Linked DNA regions of Homo sapiens: region 2 is linked to region 1. The links come from fine-mapping of genetic effects on gene expression. A gene starts in region 1. The other region holds a variant in brackets. All regions are shown on one strand. Distances are between the middles of the regions. Region 1 holds the start of ST6GAL2 (ST6 beta-galactoside alpha-2,6-sialyltransferase 2). Region 2 has its middle 200 kb from the start of LINC01789.

The links. PIP is the estimated chance that this variant, and not a neighbour inherited with it, causes the effect.
Region 2: its variant is fine-mapped to the expression of ST6GAL2 in sun-exposed skin (GTEx, PIP 0.99).

What each region holds. Positions count from the first base shown.
Region 1 is chr2:106,884,786-106,887,695 of GRCh38, reverse strand. ST6GAL2 (ST6 beta-galactoside alpha-2,6-sialyltransferase 2) reads left to right here and starts at 1,529. Exons shown (of 6, transcript NM_001142351.2): 1 at 1,529-1,603. LOC124907864 (a long non-coding RNA gene) reads right to left here and starts at 1,163. Exons shown (of 2, transcript XR_007087169.1): 1 at 589-1,163.
Region 2 is chr2:107,163,579-107,166,488 of GRCh38, reverse strand. No RefSeq gene overlaps it. Among named protein-coding and RNA genes, the nearest start is that of LINC01789, 200 kb to the left of the region's middle. The variant A/GATA (reference allele first, on the strand shown) is at 1,354.

The DNA.
Region 1 (2,910 bases):
TCACAGGAGAGTATTTACCAGCAAACAAAGGGCGGCGCGGTTTGGGGTCCTAGGACCAGCTGCCGCCGTCTCGAGAAAACGCAAGGGCCGCGGTGACAAGTGGACATTCCGCACGCGACCAGACCGACACTCGATGGGCACCTCCCCGCGGCCCCGCCCGCAGGCTCCAGCTGCCCAGCTCGCAGCCGCCCACTGGCTCCGGAGGCTGCTTCAACCACTTGTCCCGCCGGCTTCTACCCCAAGAACTTTCCGTCCCTCTTGGGGTTGGGGACCGGCAGTGTGGAGGGGCGGGCAGGTGGGGGTCTCCAGGGAGCACCGTCACCGGACTTGGCGAGCTACCCTTCCCAAATGAAAGGTGGCCCGCTCCCAAGTCCATCCCATATCCTTAGAGAAGCTCTGGGAGCGAGGGCCAGGCGGCAGTGCGGAGCCTGGTTGAGCGAGATGAACAAAGGGAGCTAGCGAGCCGGGGAGGATGCTGCGCTCCCCTGCGCCCCACCCAGCCGGCTGCCAGGCGCTGCCAGGCGCGCAGGTAGCCCGGCCTTCCGCGCTGGCGGGGGGAGGTGTTGGACAGGGTACACAAAGACTCACTTCCGCCGGGGCAGGCGCCGGGACTCCCTCCTGGCCGCCCACAGCCTGTGCGCATTCCTGCATTCCTGCCGCCGCCCGGGACCCGAGTGCCCCGGAGGTGTCCAGGCGCGGTGCCAGGCGGGTACTGTGCAGGTAACCTTCGGAAGAACTAGGGCTGGATGGAGGCGGCGGCCGGGGAGAAACACGCCTTTTTAGGCAGCCGTGCTGCCCCGCACCGCCCCACGCAGCCCAAGTCTGCAGTCACTCTCCGCGACAAGCAGAAATCCGCGCGCAGCCAGGGAGCGCCCCGCCTGCGCTCGCCGGCGGGCCGAGCTGCCGGGCCGGGGGCGCGGGGAGGGGGCAGCCCAACTTCCCAGTGCCCGGCTCCCGCCAGCTAGGTGAGCCTGGAGCGGGAAGGATGAAAGGGATCGCGGAGAGGGAGGGGGCTCTGGGGCGAGCGGAGCTCGGGGGCGGGGCGCGGCGCAGCCTCGGTGCGTGGGCCGGGAACCGCCGCCTCTCCCCGGGGCTCGGGGCCGCGGTTCCTCTGGCCGCGGGAGCCGCCGCCGCGCTGCCCGAAACAATGAGGCGTGCAGCGCGGGGCTGAGCGTAGCCTCCCGCCGGCTTTGAGGCCGAGCCACCCGCTGTGCCCCGCCGCCCGCGCTTGCAGCTGCCGCCGGCGCGGAGCAGCGCTGGCCCCGGAGAGGTGATCCCGCAGGCCGCCTGGGACGGGAGCGCGGGGCAGCTCCGAGACCCCACGGTGGCAGGAGGAGGACTCGAGCCTGCGGCAGGACGACTCCCGCCGCGCACTCGCCTTCTGCAGCCCCCAAGTTCCGCGGCGTGAGTCGGGGACCCCGGCCAGGGTCCCAGCTCTAGCGGGCGCCAGCGTGAGTGTGGGAGCGCGTAGCGCGCGCACCCGAGCGGCTGCCGGGGAATAAAATGTGACACGCACGCCTTGGACTCCAGTGCCGCGCTGCCAGGGGGAGCACCGAGCACCACGGTGTCGTGCGCTTCGAGGCGCGGCGTGGGAAGAAGGCTGGTAAGGGAGGGCACTGGGTAAGGGTTGGCGACGCCTTTCTTGGTGGCGCTGCAGCCTCCGCGCTGCTGTGCGCGGAGTTACACTCCGTGTTTAGGAGCGAGACCCGTGTGTGGGGAATGTTGAAGGTGGTTTGGGGAAAAGCAGGAAATTCTGGAGAAGCGAACGGGAGGACGGCTTGCGCTTTGGGGACGGGCGGATACAGTTGTGCCCCTGTGGCTCAGTAAAGGTGATCTTTTATTTTGGCTCTTTTGGCTCTGGAAGGGAGTGAAGATTTTTGTCTTTCTTCAGCCAACCCCCGTACAAAACTGCACTTCTTAAAGGTTAAAGTGTGTTCTGTTCATTTCTGGTTCTCTGTGGCTATAATGTTTGGGGTAGTAGGGATCTTTAGAATCCTAAATACCCGAGTGTTAATTCTTATGTAGTTGGCAGGCGGCAAACTCCGCTTTTGGGTTTACTTTCCGCGGTGTTACGGAGTGGATATTTGATGCATTCTTTTGAGTAGGGAGTGTGACGTCCATCTCATTCGGATTTGCCGGTTCTGTGTTGGGGGACTGAGTGAAGTTAAACTCAATGGCTCCCGCAAGTGCTGCCTTCCAAAGAGCTGAATAGCTGTGTTTGGAGAAGCTGTGCTTTCCAGGAATTTAAATGAGACTTTTTGTGATTGCCTTCCAGGTCTCTCCTCCTAGTACCATATTTGTTTTGTCAGGCTGAACTTTCAAAGCTGTTTTGTAATCTGAGAAGCACTTTTGGGGGGAAAGTAATGCTTGGCTGGATTTTTGTGAACTTATTTTTATTGGACATGCGAAAAATTTGGCGAGAGGCAAACCATATTTGGTTGAAATCATTGTCTTTTGCACCACTGCCGTTCTGACCATAAAGGGGCATGCTGACCCTCCTCGCCGAGGACTGCCTGCTTGGGTGAGGGGGGTCTTTGGTGGGCTGGAAGCACATTTTGTATTTAGAGAACTTTCTGCACACTTGAAAAACCCCATGCTGGTTACTTTGATGCTTCCCTTTTTTGAAATTCTGATCAACATTTTTTGCCAACTTGAAATATAATTTATGACCAAGGAAGAATTCCAATAAAGTGAAGTGCTATATATATATGATGTATATGTATATACATACACATATGTATATATGTGTGTGTGTGTATGTATATATATATATATATATATATATATATGCGCTGCAAATTTAGGGTTAAAACTTTTTTTAAAAGGAAAACTGATGTGTGGCCTTGAACCTGTTTTTACCCACTCTCCTTCCCCCATTATTTTTCTGGAACTGACAACCAAAATTTTTAT
Region 2 (2,910 bases), 280 kb before region 1:
ATTGTGAGGTGTTATCTTGGAAGCCTGGCTGGATGAGGTTGGGATGAGTCGAATTAGTGTGTGCTGGATGGGTATAAACTTGGTGACAGGGCAAAAGACCAGATGTAATAAGTTCCTCAGAAGTAGGATAAGTTGCAATGACTACACGCCACTCAGATAAGAGACATCCACGGGCTTCTCCTGCACACTAAGGAATATAGGTTTGCTCCTCAAGGGAGAAGTCTAGGGATCGAGATTGGGAGTTATTAGCATGTAGGTGAATGCAGGACAATGGGTGTGGTCAGTTTGTCACATAAGAAGAACCTTAACAGTGTGAAAATTGAGAGACTGATGAGCAAGAAGATTTATGGGCAGAGAAATCAAATGAACATTGTTTGGCCATTGTGATGATTGGTATTGTTATTTCAGAGCTAAAGCAGATTGAACTCCACTACTGGAACCTTATCATCTTATGAAGCTGCAGGCACTTTGCCTCACTTAGTTCCAACTGTGTGCACTACCAGGCTGCCAATCATTTCTTAACTTCCCCACCCTCAGATTCCTCACCGTGGGTGACCACACCTGTTCTAATGACCATGAGGATCAAAAGGCACAGAATGCATTAAAGGCCAGGGGAAACTGAAGAACCACAGAAGTAAGAGGTGGGGCCATTGCTCTTCTTGTCTAGTTAGAGAAGGAAGTGCAACCTACAGGTTAAAGACTTGAATCTGGATTTGGACTTGATTATAGCACTTACAAGTTGTTTAGCTTTCAGTAAGTCACTTAAACTCTCTAAGCCTCCTTTCCATTGGGATGATTCATTTATTCAACAACAATGTATAGATGATACCTACATCAACCAGGCAGTCTAATTGGGGTGAGGATCACATGCAAACAAAATAAAAATCCTTGCTCAGTGGCGCTTATGTTAATGGTACCCAGATCATCAGCTGTTATAAGGATAACATGAAATAAGGCATGGAAACTGGTGAGGCACAGTGCCTGGAACAAGGTAAACTCTCATGAAACATTAGCTAATTGTATCATGGGTAAGACCTTGGCCAAAGCCACCTTCTAACCCTCTTCTTCCTGAGGCTGCTTCTAGTGTTAGAGCTGGCAAGCTAGAGGAAAGCATTAAAAAAGCATAAATATTACAACAAACTACACTGTTTCCACTCATGAACTCACCACATTAATAACCATGTTATCAATTTTAAATTGCCCAATATTAAAAATGAAGTATTACCATTCAAATATTTCTCACTAGCTTTAATCGTCTTGAGAAAAGCAAGTAAATTTCAGCTTAAACTGATAAAGTAAATGATTGACATTTTAATATGCAAGGAATTTATGAACTACTTACCAATGATAAAT[A/GATA]TCTTGCCACAGTGTATGGAAAGAGCTAAGACTGGCTGGGGTTGCAGGACTCTGCAGATGGGCTCTCTGGAGTGGGTGCCAATGCTGGGGGCAAGGGCGGGCCTAGGGAATGTGAGCTTACATGCTCAGCTGGGAGACAGCCCTCATCAGAGAGTCCAAGAGGTCCCAACACAAAAATTTTAAGAATACCTAAACTAACGTATATTTCCAACTTCCACAAAAGGGAAAAAATGTGGTAAATACAAGATGAATTGTGACACAATTGATCAAACTGATCTTAGATGATTTTGGAAGTCAGCAGGGAGGGATGTGCCAGATGCCTAGAAATGGGAAAGGCAAGTGCTGGGAGTTTCTCAATGTGTTGTCAACATTGCCCAGGACCCCTGAGCTGACACTCAGGTCTTTTGGTCCTCCTGCTGTGTCCCCAGGTTGGGACAGGGGCAACATGCAGGCAAGACTTTTTTTTTTTTTTTTTTTTTTTTTTTTTTTGAGATGGAATCTAACTCTGTAGCCCAGGCTGGAGCGCAGTGGCGCGATCTCGGCTCACTGCAACCCCCACCTCCCAGGTTCAAGCGATTCTCCTGCCTCAGCCTCCATAGTAGCTGGGATTACAGGCACCCACCACCACGCCCAGCTAATTTTTGTATTTTTAGTAGAGACAGGGTTTCACCATGTTGGCCAGGCTGGTCTTAAACTCCATATCTCAGGCAATCTGCCCGCCTCAGCCTCTCAAAGTGCTGGGATTACAGGCGTGAGCCACTGCGCCCGGTAGGCGAGAGTATTTTTGACTACCTGGCAGTTACCTTGCTAACTATCAAATTTAAATTTAATATCGTATTTTAATCACCAATTTCCTATGCATTTGGTTAAGCAATTCATTTCTCCAAGGCCTAATCACTCATGCCTAAAGTGTCACAATGAATCTGTACATGAGCAGTGATGAGGACACACCCTGAGCATTTGATGTTCCCAAAAGAAGAGGAGCAGAGAGTTCTACTGAATCTTGTTCTGATTTGTTAAATAAATGGAGCTGAACATGGTTTTAGGGAATTTGGGGGCATTTGTGTGTCTATGGTGAAGCAGCATTAGCCATACTAAATGTTCTGTCTAATGGCCAGTGATAAAGACAATTTCCAGCTTTCTTTGAAAACTTCTAATTAATAAATAAAAGATATATAAGAAAAATTTCAATAAACAAACCAATAAATATACGTCTTTGGCATGGTTATTACATAGAGAAAGCCTCAAGCCAAGAGTTGTTATAATACAGAGCACATGGCTTAGCCTCATCCCTTTGGTTTATAAATCATTCATTCATTCATCAAAGTTTAGGAGATAAAACAGATATAGATCTCTCAGATTGGGAAAGGCAAACACATCTCAACCTCAGGTGGAAGAAGTACAATTGTCCTGAGGGAGACACTTTGTTTTGAGAGTTCTGATAAAGGCAGTAAAAAATAGCTTAAGGGTCAAGGAAGGAAACAGACAGGGAAGAGTAAATGCTTTGTTGTGGTTAGGAATTTTAAGGCTGCAAGGAAGACAGAAGTGACCTGAGTT